Linked DNA regions of Homo sapiens. The protein of the gene in region 1 purifies or fractionates together with the protein of each later gene. This does not show direct contact. Each region holds a gene or a part of one and is shown in the gene's direction. Other genes may lie near its edges.

Region 1 (7,702 bases):
CAATGAATTTAACAATTCCTCCTTTTGGTCAACCTGTCAATTTTGAGAGGATGATTAATTTTGAGGTTGCCCAAAACTTTAGGCATTGACATCACTTTTTATCATCATAAATAGAGTTATTTGGTCTCTAATGCCATTGGAAAATAGCAGAACACTGGATTTTGTAAGGTGGGAACAAGGAAACAGTATAGAAAAAAAAAACTGATTGGTTAACATCAGATTACTTTTTTATTTTTTTGTCACCCAGGATGGAGTGCAGTGGCACAATCTTGGCTCACTGCAACCTCACCTTTCGGGTTCAAGCAATTCTTCTGCCTCAACCTCCCGAGTAGCTGGGACTACAGGCATGTGCCACCACACCCAGCTAATTTTTGTATTTTTAGTATAGATGGGGTTTTGCCACGTTGGCCAAGCTGATCTCAAGCTCCTGACCTCAGGTGATCCACCCGCCCTGGCTTTCCAAAGTGCTGGGATTACAGGCATGAGCCACTGTGTCTGGCTGAGATTGCTTTCTTGTAAGTAATCTGTTGTTACTTTGGGTTACTTTTCTGTAAAGGATAGAGCAGAGGGGACTTCCTTATTATACTGGAATCTTCTGTCTTCAGGAGAAGAAAAAAAAAAACTCATCTATTTTGGGACCTGTTTTTTAAAGTTTTAGTTTGATTTTGTGGTGCTTAGCATGAGTGACTCCATTTTGGTTTGGTCTGGTCTGCTTGGGATTAGTGCAGGAGCTCAGTCCAAAACAATGACCTCTCATAATTTTGTTTAATACATGAAATTCAAATTTCAAACTTGTAGACATTTGCTCTCTCTCTTATATTATATAAGTACCTACACAATGTCCTCAAATTTGCTTTTTGATCTGTAAAGACTAAGATATTTATCATCTAGTTTTACAGAAAAGTTTGCAGATCTTCTGGTTTAAAAGAGCAGGAGATTTAGTGTCAGGCAGGTTTGGATTGAGCCCAAGGGCTGCCATTTACTGATTGTATGACTTTGAGCAAGGTATTTATCTTTTCTAAGCCTCAATTTCCTCATCTATAAAATGGGCACACAAATAGTATTTACCTTGGAGAGTTAAATGGGATAATGCATTTAATGTGCTTAACACAGTTGCCTATCAGATGCTTAGGGGCTCAAAACATTACTATTGTTGTTGTTGTTGTTTTACCCTAAAGTAAATGAGACAAAATAGCAAAGCTAAATGAGGAGGAATTTTTAAGTTACATCAGAAACTGTAATAGATTCTAAAATATTATAATTAAGAAATTTCATACTTATTTAAAAAGGCATTTTCAATTTAACAATTTAACAATTTAACCCTCTTATAAGTTAAAAAAAAAAAAAAAAAAAGCCCGGCACAGTGGCTCACGCCTGTAATCCCAGCTCTTTAGGAGGCTGAGGTGGATGGATCAGGAGGTCAGGAGTTCAAGACCAGCCTGGCTAACGTGGTGAAACCTCGTCTCTACTAAAAATACAAAAATTAGCTGGGCGTGGTGGTGCATACCTGTAATCCCAGCTACTCAGGAGGCTGAGGCAGGAGAATCGCTTGAACCCGGAGGCAGAGGTTTCAGTGAGCCAAGATCGTGCCACTGCACTCCAGCCTCAGCAACAGATCAAGACTCCATCTCAAAAAGAAAAAAGAAATAAAAATAAAAAGTCATGACCAGCTATTTTGGGAGAACTGAAATTACAACTCTATCTGAGAAAATAAAATGACAGGACTCCACAGAATCCATAGATAAAAATTTAACTGAAGAGGAATATGGAACAGACTAAAGGAAAAATTTTATCAAGCTGTAATCTTTATACTTGTGCCTGAGGCCAGAACTTGAAACTGCTGAAGACAGTGTTTCTCTACAAATGTACACAGGCACCCCATTTTGATGCACAGATAGGTGTTTATTTCTTTTAAGAATAGCAGCTTTATTGAGATAAATTTCACATATGATACAATTCACCAATTTAAAGTGTACAAGTCAATGGTTTTCAGTATAATCAGAGTTGTACTACCATCACCATAATCAATTTTAGAACATTTTCATCACCGCCCAAAAACCACTGTAGTCTCTCCCCAGCCCTCCACTCCTGGGAACCATTAATGTACTTTCTGTTTCTATAGATTTGCCTATTTTGGATATTTTATGTAAATGGGATCATACAACGTGTGGTCTTTTGTGAATAGCTTTTTTCACTTACCATAATGTTTTCAAGATTGGTTCATGTTGTAGCAGGTATCAGTCCTTTTTCCTGTTTATTGCCAAATAATTTTCCATTGTACGGATAGATCATATTTTGTTTATCCATTTGTCACATTTTGGTTGTCTATCAGTTGATAGATATTTGTGGTGCATTTAATTTTTGGCCAATGTGTAAAACTTATTTTGCTCTCACTGAGGCTACATACTGTTACAACAATGCTATTTGGTCAACTTGACTGAGCTGGCCTCATAAGTTACAGGTTGCTCATTGTTAGAGATGAGACTTTAGACCAGACTGGACAACATAGTGAGACCCTGTCTCTACCAAAAAGAAAAAGAAAAATTAGCCAGATATAATGGCATATGACTGGAGTCCCAGCTACTTGGGAGGCTGAGATGGGAGGATCACCTGAGCCCAGGAGTTTAGGACTGCAGTGAGCTGTGATCGTGCCAATGCAATCCATGCTGGGCGACAGAGTGAGACCCTGTCTCAAAACACAGAAAGAGGGATTTTAGTATAACATTCAGCCAGTGCCATATTGGGAACCCACAAGAATGTACTTTAAAAAATATGTCAAAGAACGTGGTGAGGGCTGTAATAGCTGCTATTCAGGCAGTAATGCAGTGCTGAAGGGACATCAAGCAAATAGTGTGATGCCTGTGGGTGCAATGTTACTCCTTCCCTTAGGTTGCCAAAAAAATCAATACTTCATAGCATTCCTGAAACGAAAAAGCTTATGAACCATTGTGTTTAGGGCGTAAGCTATCTATTTTGGGCTACCCATCACAGCTTCTCTCCTTTGGTAGAATAAAGTGAACTGAACCACCATGCCTAAGGTATTTGCCTTATTTCTTCCTCAGCTGGTTCATGGTTACATTGTCAAAGCTGGCAAAGCATTCAAGACCTGATTTCTCAGACCGAGTGTATGTGTGAATATAATATACTCATTTGCACAAATATAAACCCTCTGTCTTAACTGTGTTCTGCAAAAGGCGTGATAAATACTTTCAAGTTATATGTCCTTATCAGTAGAACTAATGGAATACACACAGTATATTATATGGGGAATTTCAGAGAAGGAAGGAAAAGTCAACCTTTTATTTGGCATCAGGATAGTAGTAAAACATTCTACTTGTGCATCAGATAGATTTTTATGACCTAACCTGGACAAGTAACTTAACTCTTGGTGCCTCATGTTTGAAAGAGGGATAACACTCTACAGGGTCATTCTAAGAATTAAATATTGCCAAAACACATGAAAAGATTCTCAACCTTGTTAGTAATCAAGGAAATGCAAATGAAGATCACAATGAAGTCTTCTTTTGTACTCAATTGATTGGTGAAAAATGCATGCCTGATAATATTGACATAACAGACCAATGAGATCTCTTATAATTTGCTGGGAAAATGTATCAATTTGTACAAACATTTTGAAAAATAATTGTGCATTTTCTTGTGAAGTAAAACATTTGAATAATCTAGGACCCAGCAATTCAGCTCTTACACAGACACTCAAGAGGAAGTTGCACACACATATGTCAGGAAAAATGTTCATAGCAGCCCTGTTCATAAGAGCAAAACCTGGAACAATTGAGAGGAAATGAATAAATTGCCGTGTAGCCACACAATAGAATACAAGACAGCAGTGATGCTGAAAAATATAGCAAGCCTCAGGAGTTTATATATTATATGGATAATTTTATGAAGCTCAAAAACACCCAAAATTAAACAACATATTCTGTAAGTACATACGTGGGATATGTGATAAAACTAAAAGGGAATGATCAGCAATCCAGAACCAATTCATGACTGTTGTTACTATCTTATGGGGCAGGCTGTGGATTGGAAGCAGGGGCGGTGCACATAGGTACGTGTAACTTACTGGTAATGCTTTTAGGTTAGGAATGAGGTCAAAGGAGTTCACTATAAATTTATATTAGAAAGAAGGGCTATCTATGGATTAGTGATGAGAGTGTCATGCACCAGCAAATACGATTAATGAACTTAGGTTACCTGAGGTCCAAATAAATAATGAGAAAAAAGTAAATAAAAGTGATGCATGAATACTAAAAATTTGGAATTACATATATAATATGTAATAATAAAAAAAGAAAAAATTGTCACTGGTTATCCTTCAGGTATAAAAATTACAATTAAAATTGTAATGTTATAACCTTCCATTCTTTCCCCTATGAATTAAAACTTTTTCTTTTAACGAGACTAAAAAATCAAGTTGATAAAATCTATGCCCTGTGGGAACTGGTTAGGTCAGGCTACCCACTCCAGATTTCCAGCAGGCTGGCCTCAGCTCTACCTACAGCCAGTAGCTTATTAAGGCTCTAGGCGCCAGTGACACCTTCAGACAGGTGGTTAGTGCGCCCTAAGGACTCTCCGCAGCGTCGCTCAGGTTCACAGAACACGCCCAGGGGCGTGTCCAGCTGTCGTCGGGGAGAGCCCACCTCCCCGGGGGGTGTGGCTAAGGGACGAGGCGCTTCTCGTCCAGAGCCCAGGTAATCCGGGCGGGATCAGCGAGCGTCGCGATGTGATGACGTCAGGCCCCGGGCAGGCCGGGAGTGGCGTGCTGGGCGTGCGCGGCTGCGGTACGGCGTGTTGGTCCCAGCGGTTCAGCTGAGGTAGGGACGTGCTGTAGGCCGGAATGTTACCGGCTGTTGGATCTGCGGATGAGGAGGAGGATCCTGCGGAGGAGGATTGTCCTGAATTGGTTCCCATGGAGACGACGCAAAGCGAGGAGGAGGAAAAGTCTGGCCTCGGCGCCAAGATCCCAGTCACAATTATCACCGGGTATTTAGGTAACTAACCATCCCAGTCACAAAATGGCGTGACCTCTGGTGTCATGGGATTTTGCGGGCTGCCGGTGCCTCTTCTCCTGAGGCATTGGGGCCTCATGATCAAGAGCAAATGTCTTCGAGGTAGGGGCTGGGTCACTTGCTTCTCGTATGGGTTGCCTCTCATCTTGGGAGTTAATGATGCCCGGCCCCCTCTGCGTTAGATTCCCATTTCTCAAGTGAGATGGAAAGTTAGCCTTTGAAACAAGGCTTTGACGCTAAGACACGCCCCCCTGATTGTCTCTGTGACCTCCTACCAAGTTATCTTACCTTCCTGACGCTCATCTACCTCACCTGAAAATGGAGAAATACCTGTCACCTGTGAAACAGGGCCGGAACCACCTACCTGTTGCCATTAAAGGATGTCCCGTCTGTAAAATGCCCGACACGTGGGGCTTTCGTCAGTAGATTCCCCTTCCCCACGAGCCAAAGTCCTCCAGCCAGTTGGCAGGGAGCGCTCCTATCTTAAACACTTTTTTTTTGAGGTCTGTTTGTAAACCACTGCGTAGGAAGTAAGAATAAAATCTCTGTCCTCCAAGACTATTTCTCAAACTAAGAACGTTTAGAGTGTACAGGGATACTCGAAACCACAAGTTTGTGAACTTGGTAGTTTCGTGAAGGGCGGTTTATGCACTTACACTAGAAGTTTCTTACTGGAAAAGTTTGAGAAATATATTTTTAAACCTTACAGTTAAATAGAAGGGCTAGAACAAATATATGACTGTATTAGAAGTTTGGAAAAAGTTAAGAAATGTAAATAAAATGATACTGTTTCCGGGAAATAATATTCCTAGTTGTTGCTAGAGACAGGTACAGACTTGGGCCACTTCGTGACCTTTTATGTAAAAATAAGAAATAACTGCTTTTGTTTTTTAAAAAACTTTGTAGACTGTAAGTTTATTCCCGTTTTTTGCTCGGAAGTAATTTTATAAAGGAATTTATTTTTGGCGTTTCCCCACAGTTATTCAGAGGCTGCTCTGCTGAGAAGATGAACAAATTTCTTGTCCAAAACAATGTATTTCAAACGTGCCGCTCGGGCCTTTCCCGTATTGCTCACTGGTAGGTCAGTAGATCACTGGAGAAAATGATCTGAAGCTCAGGAGTGAGAATTAATACCAGCAACCTTGTTGCTGAATCTAGGGATAGTTTCACTCCTATCCCTGACCATTTTCCCTTTCTGAAACACTGTTCTTTTGGCTTCTATTACATTTTTCTTCTGATTTTTCCACCTGCTTCTCTGGCTTCTTTTTAAGGCTCCCTCCTCCTTCCCCCTTTGTCCATCTTTAGCTACACACCTGTGTAATTTCTATTTTGATGTCCTACAACTTAAAACTTAACATGTCTGAAACTTCGTCTGTTACCATCCCCCCAAATCCTGCTTCTGTGATCCCAACCATTTGTAATACTCTAAAAGCCTCCTGACTAATCTGGAGTCTTGCTGCCCTTTAATTTATTCGTTGCATGTTAGCCTTAATGATCTTTATAAATGTCAATCCGACTGCGTCACACCTTTCAGTGGCATCCCTATGGGTTAAAATCCAAATTCCTTAACATGAATTACAAGGACCTGTAGCATCTGGATCTTGCCAACCTTTCCAGCCTGCCAAATTGGCCCCGCACAATGAACTAATGTTACTTCAAAGGTGCCAAGTGTTTTAGCCCCTTGGAATAGGTACTTTTTTACTGTGACTCCTCTGGCTAGATGTCCCTCTTAGGTTCTCCATAGCATTTTGTGCATCTCCTATTGAATATGTCACCCTGTGACATAATTGCCTCCTTATTCACTGAATTCCCCTCCATTCCCCCCTTCCCTTAATTTTTTTTTTTTTTTTTTTTTTTTTTTTGAGACGGAGTCTCGCTCTGTCGCCCAGGCTGGAGTGCAGTGGCGGGATCTCGGCTCACTGCAAGCTCCGCCTGCCGGGTTCACGCCATTCTCCTGCCTCAGCCTCCCAAGTAGCTGGGACTACAGGCGCCCGCCACTACGCCCGGCTAATTTTTTGTATTTTTAGTAGAGACGGGGTTTCACCGTTTTAGCCGGGATGGTCTCGATCTCCTGACCTCGTGATCCGCCCGCCTCGGCCTCCCAAAGTGCTGGGATTACAGGCGTGAGCCACCGCGCCCGGCCCCCTTAATATTTCTAAGCTCTATGAAGGCAGAGACTATCTTGTTCACTTTTTCACCAAGGCTCAGCATAAATCTGTAACGTATTAGAAACCTTCGAATGAATGAGCTATGTCTTAAAGTGTTTTTTTTTTCATAATATGGTTAAAAAGCCCTAGTAAATCTTCTCTTAGAAGATTTCTTACATTCACCCTTTCCTTTCAGTTTTCACATCACTGCCCTGTGAAACACTCATGTTCAGGGCCTCTGTCTCAGGCTTGGACTGGTTTTAAGATTTTCCTCATTGCCCTAAGTCTCTCCCATTCTATACTTCATATTTTTGTGATGTTGAGCTTCCTAAAGTACTCTAAATATAAGCCTTCATCTCTTAAAAAGCTTTGAAAGGAATATGACCTAAAAGATATTAATACCCTAATACTCTGTAAAATCTTCCTAGTTATATACTAGAAAACTTAATGTATTTCAGAAGACATGTATAGCCTACATGTAAAAGTTTTTAGCAGCACTGTAATAGTAAAACACTGGAAACAAAC
Region 2 (7,030 bases), on another chromosome or scaffold:
AGTGAGAGACATGTGACTCTTCCTTTCAGTTAAACACTTAGAGGCCATTCTAGGGCTATTAAGTGGCCTAATTTCAGTATTGTGTTTCAGGGAATAGGGAGGCCTGAGGAGAGGGAGAGAGAAGTGGGGCAGGCTGATGGAGCCTTCAGAACACACACAAACATTTGTTTGCCGTCTTTACATGGGCACAGTTTGTGGTGCTCCAAAACAATTAAAATTTTAACATCAAAGACCATTGATCACAGATCACTATAACTGGTGTGATAATAATGAACATGTTTGAAAGATTGTGAAAATTACCAAATTGTGACACAGAGACATGAAGTGAACATGCACTGTTGGAAAAATGACATTGTTAGACTTGCTCAGAGCAGGGTTGCCACAAATCTTCAATTTATTTTTAAAAAAAAAAGCATCTGGTCAGATGTGGTGGCTCATACCTGTAATTCCAGCACCTTGGGAGGCTGAAGCAGGCGGATCATTTGAGGTCAGGAGTTCTAGACCAGCCTGGCCAAAATGGTGAAACCACGCTTCTACTAAAAATACAAAAATTAGCCGGCCATGGTGCATGCAACTGTAGTCCCCAGCTACTCAGGAGCCTGAGGTGGGAGGATCACTTGAACCTGGAAGGTGGAGGTTGCAGTGAGCCGAGATCGTGCCACTGCACTCCAGCCTGGACAACAGAGCAAGAGTCCATCTCAAAAAAAAAAAAAAAAGAGAAAAGAAAGAAGGAAGCAGTATCTGTGAAGCATAATATAGTGAAATGCAATAAAACAAGGCATGCCTGCATATTACAGTCATTCTGTGAGAGACTATAGATCAGGTACAAATTTTTTAAAAAGTACCTAAGAGTGTCTGCGATAGTATAGTCACTCAGATAATGTGTATTTGTTGAGTGAGGTATGTTGGGAAACTGAAACTTTAATCAGTGTAAAAATTATTGAGAGATATGTTACATGTTGTTTTAGTCTTTGAAATCCAAAGGGCTTTTGCACTGATAGCCTCAGTTCTGATTGGTCACTTTTCAAGTACTTTCTAGCTATACATGGCCAATGCTGCTGTTCTGGACGGCAGAGTTCAAGAGTCTTTCATCCTTTTTACTTTCTGTGACACCACACTGACATTCTTGACGTTTTCTTTTTGGTTTCTCCAAGGAAATACAGACCAATTCTGTATATGTATTAAGCATGTCATTTTGAAAGTTTATGAATTTAGAAATTAAAAGTCAAATGTTTGTTTTTCTTTTCTTCCTTTTTTCAAATGACCTTAGGATTTTATAACAGTTTAGAAGCTCCAGATTTGAAATCTGCAGTAAGTGTATTTTGGCAATACCTAAGATAGTGGAAAGCAGCACGATAGCTATTCATCTGGAAAGTTATGCAGGAATATAAACGTGTAGGGGAGGTTAGACCATTCCTGGAAAGAGGAGAGTTTAGTTGAGTCAGCCTCAAAGGGCGGGCAAATTTGCCATTCATAACAAAGTTGCAGATCAGAACAACCTCGCAGAGGAACCCTGAAAAGCTGATGTATTAGCCATCTGGTGGTCAGGTTGGGCATTGCAGTCATTCACTTAGCTGATACCCTTATTAGGTTTTGTTTAACTTGGAATTTAAATTAGTTCTCCATTTTTGTCTAAAAAAGCCTATTCCTAGTTTTAACATTTTTGGCATTTTTGAGGGGTATGGCAGGTCTGGTCACTGTAATTTATTGTTGTATTGCTCATGATGATCCTGAAAAAAACTTACATTAGTGAACTTGGACAAAGAAGCTAAAAAGTACTTGGAGAGAGAAATGGAGTTTGCTTTTTTGCTTTGAATTAAAAAATAATGGTCTCCTTAGTTGTTTGTTTTTTGTTTTGTTTTTTGTTTTTTTTGTTTGCTTGTTTGTTTGTTTGTTTTTGAGACGGAGTCTTGCTCTGTCGCCCAGGCTGGAGTGCATGGCACAATCTCGGCTCACTGCAAGCTCAGCCTCCCGGGTTCATGCCATTCTCCTGCCTCAGCCTCCCGGTAGCTGGGACTACAGGCCCCCGCCACCACGCCCAGCTAATTTTTTGTATTTTTAGTAGAGACAGGGTTTCACCATGTTGGCCAGGATGGTCTCGATCTCCTGACCTCGTGATCCACCAACCTCGGCCTCTCAAAGTGCTGAGATTACAGGTGTGAGCCACTGCGCCCGGCCTTGTTTTTATTTTTGAGAGAGTCTTGCTCAATCGCCCAGGCTGGAGTGCAGTGGCGCAATTGATCTCAGCTCACTTCAACTTCTGTCTTCTGGGTTCCAGTGATTCCCTGCTTCAGCCTCTTGAGTAGCTAGGATTTCAGGTGCACGCCACCACACCTGGCTAATTTTTGTATTTTTAGTAGAGACAGGTTCCGCCATGTTGGCCAGGCTGGTCTCAAACTCCTGACCTGCCTCAGGTGATCCACCTGCCTCGGCTTCCCAAAGTGCTGGGATTATAGGCATGAGCCACCGCACCCAGCTTATTTTTTAAAAAGTAGGTTAATGTGCATAGATTTTGTTCTTCTTTGAAGATGAGAAAAACACAACAGCTTATGAAACATTATGAAAATCATGTAGTTTCTATGGGCTGTGCACCTGTGTGCAAACACATGCTTACCCCCCAAAGCGGTGGGAAATTTCTGGCATAATCTGAAACATCTGTCATTCTCCTTTGAGCTTCTCTACCCGGATGAGTAGTGGAACTCTTGGTTCTGTGATTGCAATTCTAATCATGAGGTAATAGAAATCAAGGCACTTTTCTTTTATTCTTTATTTGCCACTTTTCTTTTTATAGAAGTGATACTCATCTCTGAAATACAGCCTACAAATACCTCTGTTTTCCTAGAGAACACATAAGCGTAATTGAAATGTGCCTAGGACAATACGTGCACCATATTAGATGGCTGCCAGTATAATACCTGTTTGTTGAACTTTAAGAAAGGGAATCAGGGTAATTAATTTAACAATCACTGATGGGAATTTGAGTTATGTACTCTTTCTAGTTAGCTGTTCAACAGTACACTGTTGGTTTTGCTACCTTTTGAGATTTTTTTCTTTGATTTCAGAAAATAAAGCAGTTGGAGTGATGAAGTCGGGCCATGTATTTACAATTGAGCCAATGATTTGTGAAGGTGAGAAAAAAGGATGCCATGATATTTTTCAATTGAATTTATATGTATTTTAGGTAATTCATCATGTCAGTGGTCTTTTCTACCTGCTTGCTTTTTGCTTCCTACTCACTCCCTGTCCCACCTCAAACTTGATTCAGTATCGTGAAGAACTGAAAATTGTGAGGGTTGGCAAGAACGGCATGGGTTCTGCGTGGTAGTCTTCTGTCAGGAGATGCTGAAATGCTTGAATTCTGGTCCCTTTTCATAAAGATCATGTCAAAGGGTGCATTGTAATAATGAGGTGCCCAGGTCAAGTCTGTGCGGACGTTCTTGCTTGATGTAGGAGAGGGAAGAGGAGGGAACAGAGCAGAGCATTGACGAGCCACCCAGTTCGAGGCAGACATGATTATATGATTTAATTCTTCACAATTTATAAGGTAGGTGTTACCCCATTATAGAAACTAGGAAACTGGTCCTTGAAGAGGGTGGGTAGCTTGCCTGTAACTTAGCTTGTTACTTGGCAGAATTTGTCAGACTCAGCTCATGAGCTGTTCTGACCCTTCATGGTCTGTACTCATGTCATCACGTGGCATCATATAGCTATTGTGGGGAAAGCACACCAAGGACACTTGGAAAGCACACTTGGCTCTGGCAGCCTCCCCACTGTTGTCATCTCTTCCAGACAGGCTTGTAGCAGTGATAGGAGACTGGGAGTCACAATTAGGGCTCCTCACCGAGATTTTCAGAGTGATTCTGGTAATGGAGCTTTCTGGTTAGGGGATGCAAAGTGAGGCAGTAGCAGTAGAGCTTGTGTGTCCTGAGCCCTGTTTTAAAGGATACTCCCTCTCTTGATCCTTCCAGTCTTTTTATAACCCAGTCTTGGGAGTGACTTCTATATTGTCTTTCTTAGAAGTGATTCACTGAATCCAGCCCGCACTCAAGGGGAGCAGGAGCTCACACAAGGGCCTGCATGCCAGGAGGCTGGGGATCACTGAAGTCACTTTAGAGGCTGCCTTCTAAAGCTGGTTCCTTATTGCGTTTTCTGTAAAATGAAAATTAGAATCTCTATCTTGCCAACACCCAGGGCTGCTAGACTGAGATGATTTATGTTATGTTATATACTTTAAAAGACTGCACAAATGTGCAGTAAAGTTTTTGTCATCCTCTTATAATAAGGATAAAGTTCTGATCACGTGCAACCAGTTGTAAAGATGGTAAGTATTTAGCAGTGAAAAGAAAGATAGTGGGAGGAAATTGTCATTTTGGCTACGTATTTCCATTAACTAGCACCTGGTTGGTGAGCCATGATGTAGTGTTTTCAGTAAGCAAATAACTTTCTATACAGCCAGCACAGGTAATTAATCATCAAATTATAGCAGATATACTTGAAGTGTAACTCAGCTAGGTTAAATCCCTGGACTAGAAAGTCTCAAATCTGCAGGAGAATTTCCTCAGAATAGCCAAATAAGTTTGACTTGACATTACTAAAAATCCTGTTTTATCAGATCACAATAAAATTACAGTAGTAATGTTTTAAATTTGTGTAAAGGCCATTTGTGTAAAGGCCATTACATTGAAAAACATCGATGTACTCATCTTTAGTTGCTTGATGAGGCATGAGTTAACTTTTTTAGGCCGCCTCGTATTTTCTTTTTAGCCTGGGATTTAATATTGCAAAAGTAGTTTACTTCACTACAGAGTTTATGTTCTGGGATTTGTCTGTCTGAGGCAGTGAGTCCTAGAGGTAATATGTTTCACCTAAAGATTACTCAAAATGAAGAAAGTATTGATTTTTTTTTAACATCTAATTTTGAAAGAAGAAAGCTCGCAAATACATCTTTTACAGTAGTATCTAGAATTGCCTTTCTCATTCCACCTCTGCTTCACATTCTCTTGGGCCTTTGCTTTCTGCTTTCCCTCATTATGACCCCTTCACCCCCTTTCCCTCCTTTCTCTGAGTTTTCTTTCATGGCCTCCCAGATTCACTGTCCCTTTGCTTCCCTTCTCTGGTTTCAACTCCTGTCCAGACCATTCTGCTTCATATTTTTCTTATGCTCTCACACCAGTCTTTCTTTTGCCCCTCTTTCTGATTCCAGGGGTATAGTTCACAAAAATTTCACTGTATAATCTGTTCTCACCATCTGTTTGTGTGCCTACCATTTTGAAATTATATCAGGAATTGAATGCTGTAATAAAACTGTAAACATTTACATGATTTCCTTCACAATATATGCTGAGTATAGTTTTGTCAGATGCCCAAGTTATACTAGGAAAGAGCTAAATTCATTCAAGTTTTTTTTCTGATTTTTTAATTGTAAAATACACATCTCATTTTTAAATGTACAGTTCAATATTATTAAATACATTCATAACGTTGTGCACCCATTACCACCATCCATCTCCAAAAGTCTTTTCATCTTGTAAAACTGAAACTCAACCCATTAAACATTCCCTTCCTATTGCTCACTACTCCCAGACCTTGGCACCCACTGTTCTGCTTTCTATCTCCATGATTTTGACTACTGTACTCTACCTCATAGAAGTGGAATCATTAAGCACATGCTTTTTTTTTTTTTTTTTTTTTGAGACGGAGTCTTGGTCTGTCGCCCAGGCTGGAATGCAGTGGCGCGATCTCAGCTCACTGCAAGCTCTGCCTCCCAGGTTCATGCCATTCTTCTGACTCAGCTTCCCGAGTAGCTGGGACTACAGGCGCCCAACACCATGCCCGGGTGATTTTTTGTATTTTTAGTAGAGATGGGGTTTCACTGTGTTAGCTAGGATGGTCTCAATCTCCTGACCTTGTGATCTGCCCGCCTCGGCCTCCCAAAGTGCTGGGATTACAGGCGTGTGCCACCGCGCCTGGCCAAGCATATGCTTTTTTATGACTGGCTTATTTCACTTAGCATTATGTTCTCAAGGTTCATCTGTGTTGTAGCATATTGCAGAATGTCCTTTTTAAAAAATTTCCTGTTTTAAAATGGACAATTATTGTACATATTCATAGGGTACATAGTGATGCTTTGATACATATAATGATACATATAATTAATTAAGGTTGTTACTCAAAGTTGTGGTGATTGGTATCAATATGTTGTTAAAATGAAATCCAGCGCCTTTATTTTGGAAATTCCATCTTGATTTGATATTTGGGATATATAAAAAATGTGGTTGTAATACATCTGATGAAATTTAAACATCAAACATACTGAAGACCAAAATGAAGTTGGAAAGGCATTAGCTAAAACAATTGGCATGTAAATAAGGATCTTAGTAGTGAATTTTTTCCTTGGCTTTCTTCTTGATAGAGTTCATTTAGAAAACTGAGTGAACTAAGAAATTGTTTTTGTTTGTTGAAGGCGGATGGCAGGATGAAACCTGGCCAGATGGTTGGACTGCGGTGACAAGAGACGGAAAGCGGTCTGCTCAGTTTGAGCACACCCTCCTGGTCACAGACACTGGCTGTGAAATCCTAACCCGGCGACTTGACAGTGCACGGCCTCACTTCATGTCTCAATTTTAATTTCTCCCAAGATGGCACATCTCAGTACCTTCTTACTGTGCTATGCATTTTATTGAGAGTACAGAAAGGAAGAGGAACCTTTTTTTAATCACTTGTTTTGTTTTGACTATAGATAAGAAAGGACTACAGCATTTGATGTGTGTCCTCAAGAACTTGTCTTGGGTCTGAAAAAGCTGAGAAGAATAAAGGAAACATTGCTCAACTCTTCAGCCCCCTCCCCCTGCACACCTGTTTTCTCATTTGCCCTTTGAGCACTTTTACTTAAACTTGCTTGTAGTTGCTTTTATCACTGCCGCAAAACAGCCATCAAGAGCCATCTGCTTTCCAGGTGAACATTGGAAATGAGAATCTTTGAAACTTAGCAATATGTGTTGCACCAGATTTTTTAAATTATATATATGGA
Region 3 (5,905 bases), on another chromosome or scaffold:
ACAGATGTTCTGCCAGGGCAGGTGTCTATGCAGATAAGCCTGGGTATCGTGTAGACCCTCACTGCCTGCTCTTCTCCATGCTATGCTCCTGCAGTGTGGATTTTGTGAAGTGGTCCTCGCAGGGGATGCTGCGGATGAGTCCAGATGCCATGAACGCCCTTTTTAAGCCGACCATCGATAGCATCATTGAGCATCTCCGTAAGTATCAGCCAGGCTCGGCCACTCGGCGAGGCAGAGCTGAGAAAGGGGATGGGCTTTCCCAGCATCACCAGCTGGTGCCTGTGGAGTCAGGTTGGCCTGGATCTGGGAGCCACAGGCAAGGGCCCTGCAGGACTGGGCAGGGCTTGGGCATGTATGGGAGAGGTTACTGGGCATAGGCTCTGGATCCCTCTCCTCGTACTGCAAAGCTGCTGAGAGCTTGTCTCACCCAAGCTTTCCGTTTGGCCTCAAAAGTCAGAGAGCTGGTAATGACAAAGAGGAAGAATTAAATAAACAAACAAAACTTTAAAACAACAAAAAAGATCAGAGAGCTGGAAGCTCTGAGGCAATGTTACCTGAGAGTGGCAGGCCCTAGGAAATGCATATTCTTTGCTTTACTGGGACATGTTAGACATCCTCACCCTGCTAGGGGAGAAGGAACTGTTGTGTGAATCAAAGGAAGTTCTGCAAGCAAATGGAATCTGGCTATGTCATTTTCCTGCTACATTGGTGGCAGTACCCAGGGACACATAGCAAACTCACCAGGACCTCTTTCAGTATCCTGTCCCCCGCCTACCAAATCAGACTCTCTAGGAGTGGAATGGGATTTTTATGAAAATCAGAGAATTCTATTTATAACAACCTGCCTTGACTTACCCAACAGAACCACAGGTTTGGAGAGCTTTAGGAGTATTCATTTATGCAAACCAAATTCTACTTAAAATTATCACCATGTATCTGTTAAAATGCATTTCTACTTAGCAGCAGCTCTGGCTTTTATTCCGGAACATATTGGTGTGCAAACTCCCTTTCTTTAAAAGACCAGTTCTGCAAAGATTCTGTTCAAGGAGCTCAGAGTAAGCCTGCCCTCCCAGTGGCCCAAGTGGCTTTATCCGTTCCCCACAGATGCAGGCAGCCCAGTTCCCCCTTCCTTGCTGGCTTTTGGTGACAGGACATTCTCCCTGCCTCTTCCCTTCCAGGGGACCTGTTTCAGAAGCCCGAGGTGTCCACCGTCAAGTTCCTCTTTCTGGTGGGCGGCTTTGCCGAGGCGCCCCTGCTGCAGCAGGCGGTGCAGGCTGCTTTTGGGGACCAGTGCCGGATCATCATCCCCCAGGACGTGGGCCTCACCATCCTCAAGGGTGCCGTCCTCTTTGGCCTGGACCCCGCGGTCATCAAGGTGCGCCGGTCGCCGCTCACCTACGGGGTAGGCGTGCTGAACCGCTACGTGGAGGGCAAGCACCCGCCTGAGAAGCTGCTGGTGAAGGATGGCACTCGGTGGTGCACCGACGTCTTTGACAAGTTCATCTCTGCCGACCAGTCTGTGGCTCTGGGTGAGCTGGTCAAGCGTAGCTACACCCCGGCCAAGCCCTCCCAGCTGGTCATTGTCATCAACATCTACAGCTCTGAGCACGACAACGTCAGCTTCATCACTGATCCCGGGGTGAAGAAGTGTGGCACGCTCCGCCTGGATCTCACAGGGACCAGTGGCACTGCGGTGCCCGCCCGGAGGGAGATCCAGACCCTTATGCAGTTCGGGGACACCGAGATCAAAGCCACAGCCATTGATATAGCCACTTCGAAGAGTGTCAAAGTTGGGATCGACTTCTTAAATTACTAACCCTCCCGCCCCGCTGCCTGTCCCCTTGGACTCAACTTATCTGCATCTGCTGACCTCAACCTTGACTGTTCTTTCCCTAACCTTGACCCTCACCATTGCCCATGTGAATTTCAGCAGGGAAGATGAGAACAATCAGGGCTAGAAATAATTAGTGACTTTTGAGGGCACACTGGAGTCAGAAAAACAGAAATTAAGATTAAGGTTTAGGCATAGAAAATTAAAGGATCCTGGAGGAGCAGCTAGTTTTCATAGGTACAAAAGTGGTGAAATGGCCACGGAGAAGGGAATCAGTACATTTCTGCAGCAGTGGTTGCGCTGCTTTGAACAGATCTCCGTTATGTAGAATTTAGGATGCCCTATTGCTGTCTTTCTAGATTTAAAATGAGATCTTTGAACCAGGAGGAGATCTTCATCTGAGACTTGTCTTTCTAAATTTTTTGGATGGCCATCAATATAAAATGCCACCCATCTGCAGTTAATTTCTTTTCCTCATCATGTGATTAAAAGTGGTGATTCAGTGGGAACTGGGAATGTTTTTAGCTGGTGGTAGAAGGCTGCCTACACTGGGCACTGTTTTAGATTCTCATATCATTTAAACAGCAAGGAGGTTCAGGGAAGAATAACCGTAGCCTTGGGTAATCCACTAGGGCTTTTGTGAGTAGGAGAGCTGATACCTCACATTCTTAGCAGGTGAAAACTTGCCATGATGGAAACAGATAGTGAAGAGTTACTGACGTATCCCAAATTATATGCTGTGACATAAATTCCCAGCATGCCCAGCCCTGATTTCTGAGTTCATAAGTAATTCTAGTGAACCTTAGTAGGAATTCTGGGTAAGAAAATGAGGTTGCCATTGGTCTTGTTTGCATCACCAAGACCAGACATCCAGAAGAGCCCCTCACCTTGAAAAGCAGACAGATTTTAAATTAACCCCCTCCTTCCCACTCACCTTCATCTCCCTAAGAGTTTTGGCCATTTAATTCCACATTTTGAAAGGAATACATTGGTGAAATTTGGGAAGAGAATCTGTGCTATGCAATGTTTCATTAAAATCTTCAGTTTTTCAAGTCTCTCTAAAAATAATTTGTAGATCTATACTTGATGTATTAAGTCAGTTTTTTTTCACAGCGGGCCTGTGGCTCGCCTGCATCAGAATTGCCTGGGTGCGTGTTCAGAACAGGTTCCTGGATCTGAGCCCTTTTTAACTGAGGCCGACTCTTGGAGAGGGGCACCAGAATCTGCATTTGTAGTGTATACCACATCGTGGTTCAACTGAAATTGGAGAAATACTAACCTGAGATTTTGTTGAAGTTCACACACAGATCACAGCCCGCCCTCTGCAGGTGTCCCCTTTGGGCTCCTTTAGGAAGAGGGCTTCCATGAGAAGGTGACCCCATACCTTGCCCTCTTGGTCAATGGGATTGGGGCTCCACCTGGCTTGGAGATGGCCCTTTTAACCCTCACAGGAAGGGCCAGGGGAGGAAAAAAATTGCAAGAAAGCGACACCAAGAACGGAGCTGACTGAGGAACCAACTGGAGGGTCTTCACTCTCTCCTTCCCCAGTGTACAAAACCAGTTTTCTGCAACATTCAGGAGCCAAATGAGGAAAAAGAATCAAGAATCTGACTCACAGCCCATCTGATCTGTTCAAAGCTGTCTTTTCCACCTGCTGAAATTCATTAAATCACTGGAGGCATGCATAATGAATGGAGAATGAGTGAACTTCCAATGCAACTTGGATTCACAAACCCATTATCATAGCCAATATGCAGATTTTAAACAGCATTTCACATTTCATTTGACCATGTCTTCTTTTTCGCATCGCCTGCTGCAGAATTCCCTACTAGAATGTGAAACAACGAACAAACCACAGAACTTAGAGTGTGCTGGTTAGTCACATAACTTAGTAGCAGGATTGTGTATCCAGGCACAAAGGTGTCTTTGCTAATGTTCTCTTGCTACCTGCCCTGCTTCAAACGCTAAATGGTATGGGTCTTTCTTTGTTGCCAGCCATATTCTACAAATAAGACTTTTCAATATAGTTATGAGTAATATAATTTTATGTACATATAATGTTAGAATATTGTACAGAATCTTGGTTTCTACGATGCGCTTTTCTTGTTTCAAAAAGAGGAAAATGCTTGATTTTTGTTGATGATACTTTTGTTACTGTCCTTAATTTTCCATAGTTTGGTTTCTTAATTGTGCTCACTAAGCATCGATCTGTGCTGATGCCAAGCTATGGACTATGTACGCAAGACCGAGCAATAGACAGAGGTGCCTAGGGTCCAAACACACTGAACGCACGTGGACCGCCTGGATCAGGAGCCTCATCAGACCCTTCTCCATGCACATCCTTCCCAAACAGTCACAGATTCCATTGAAAGGAGCAGATTCTATCAGTTCTTCTGTGCAGACTTTAAGAGCTGAACGTTCTGGTTCTGGAAGCCATGTGACTGCGCAGAACAACCTAAGAAACCCTTTGTGTCCTGAGGGGTCGTTGACCTCTCCTTCCGGGTCGGAGCAGTCACTCTGAGGGCAAAGCGTGGTCCACTGTGTGTGATGTTTTCAGGATGCTAGGGTCAAAGAAAGAAACCAAGTGGTACATAAGCCCAGCTTTTCTGCTGGGCTAAGTGTAAGTGTGAGTAACATGGTCAAGCCCCTCTTTTTTGGGCTAATGTAAAGCCTTTCCTGCCTTGCATTAATGCTATCTCCCTGTGTACTGTTTCTCTTAAATGAGCAGATAGAAATCTGCAGTGTTGGCAGATAGGTGATGGAGAGGATGATAATTTTATCTTCTGGCCACAGAGCTGCAGCCCCAGTTGTCAGAGTCCTTAAATGAAACCCCCAAATCCATCCCTCCTTCCCTACCCCCACTGGAATATTCTAGAATAAGAGCACTGGATAAGTACACTTGAACACATTTTTCTAACCTTAGAAAATACCTACAAGGCCTGTTGTCTTGACCCATTACTCAATTGTCCCTGGCATATTATCTGATCTTCACGTTTCTTGGAAGCAGAATCATCAAGGCTTTCCTTTGTAACTGCCCTTTCCGTACACAGCAGGCATGAATAAATGCTGAGTAACAGACAAGTTACAGACAGGAGGGGAAAGAGGAGGAACCATACAACTGTTTTTGCAAAATGATGGCTGAGTCCAGATTATAGAGGTTGCCTTACCCTTAGAATGTTATTTAGACCAAGTTTAGCTTTTAGAGTCCAGGTCTGGTTAATTGCCAGGGTAGCAAAGAATCGCATGCACCAATGTAAACAGGAGTCAGAATGCATTATTAGTCAAAGATCGAATTTCACATTGTAGAGATGTATAGCTGTGATTAAGCTGCATATGTATGCTGGGAAACGGCTTGAGTGGATGGCTAATATAAAAGTTGTTGGCCATAATGCCACACCTCTCATCTGCTTGAAATATGGACCAGTATTCTAAAATATCAGCTACTGGGGTCTCATTCACTACAAGATAAATTCAAACTTCACAGAACTTTGCAGCAGTTCACCACCAGACGGGACTGTGTCTGCAAACTCTCTTGTCTTCACAGACGCCTAATAAAGCAAAACTCTGAATCTCATGTGGCCCAGATTTTTTTTCCCCCCATCCTGGGTTTGCAAACTGCATGATGGACACGTCAGTACTGATCTCCCTCTCTACCCCATCTCAGGTGGTGGAGAGAGAGTTTCAGTTTTTTCCAGGTGCTGTAAGTTTTCTTAAGTTATTCTAACAAGACTAGGCCCTTTGTTTGCTGGGAACCAAGGCCCCATCGATGGGCACAGAGCCCCTTTTCTCTGGAAGAAAGTGGTCTAGCCAGAGGGAGGGCAGGTAAGCAGAGTGACCACTGCCAATGCCACTGCACCCCAGTGTAAGTCATTAAAACATGCAGAAGGCCTGGCTGGGCTCTTGCCCCTGGGCATCCCAGCCGTCACGTGAAACTGGCTGTGTCCAGAGCCTACACCTGAGTCGCCCTCCACAGTTGGCTCTGAAAGCTTCCTGATGGCCCGAGGTATGTTCTAAATGGGGTGATAAAAGAGAGGTATAAATGGTGGTCGGCTCCACCAGCCTTCATTTGCAGTT

Evidence for each region.
Region 2: the proteins of ZNG1B (region 1) and METAP1 purify together in Homo sapiens (affinity purification with mass spectrometry; 3 studies listed by BioGRID and IntAct, with this or other methods). This does not show direct contact.
Region 3: the proteins of ZNG1B (region 1) and HSPA12A purify together in Homo sapiens (affinity purification with mass spectrometry; 3 studies listed by BioGRID and IntAct, with this or other methods). This does not show direct contact.

What each region holds. Positions count from the first base shown.
Region 1 is NC_000002.12:113,433,011-113,440,712, forward strand, and holds the start of ZNG1B (zinc-regulated GTPase metalloprotein activator 1B), read left to right. Parts: upstream 1-4,680; 5' UTR 4,681-4,858; coding exon 4,859-5,012; intron 5,013-6,009; exon of another isoform or gene 6,010-6,061; coding exon of another isoform or gene 6,062-6,107; intron 6,108-7,702. UniProt on the Homo sapiens protein: Zinc chaperone that directly transfers zinc cofactor to target metalloproteins, thereby activating them.
Region 2 is NC_000004.12:99,054,691-99,061,720, forward strand, and holds part of METAP1 (methionine aminopeptidase 1), read left to right. Parts: intron 1-3,062; coding exon 3,063-3,128; intron 3,129-6,463; coding exon 6,464-6,627; 3' UTR 6,628-7,030. UniProt on the Homo sapiens protein: Cotranslationally removes the N-terminal methionine from nascent proteins. The N-terminal methionine is often cleaved when the second residue in the primary sequence is small and uncharged (Met-Ala-, Cys, Gly, Pro, Ser, Thr, or Val).
Region 3 is NC_000010.11:116,670,692-116,676,596, reverse strand, and holds the end of HSPA12A (heat shock 70 kDa protein 12A), read left to right. Parts: intron 1-94; coding exon 95-198; intron 199-1,178; coding exon 1,179-1,816; 3' UTR 1,817-5,405; downstream 5,406-5,905. UniProt on the Homo sapiens protein: Adapter protein for SORL1, but not SORT1. Delays SORL1 internalization and affects SORL1 subcellular localization.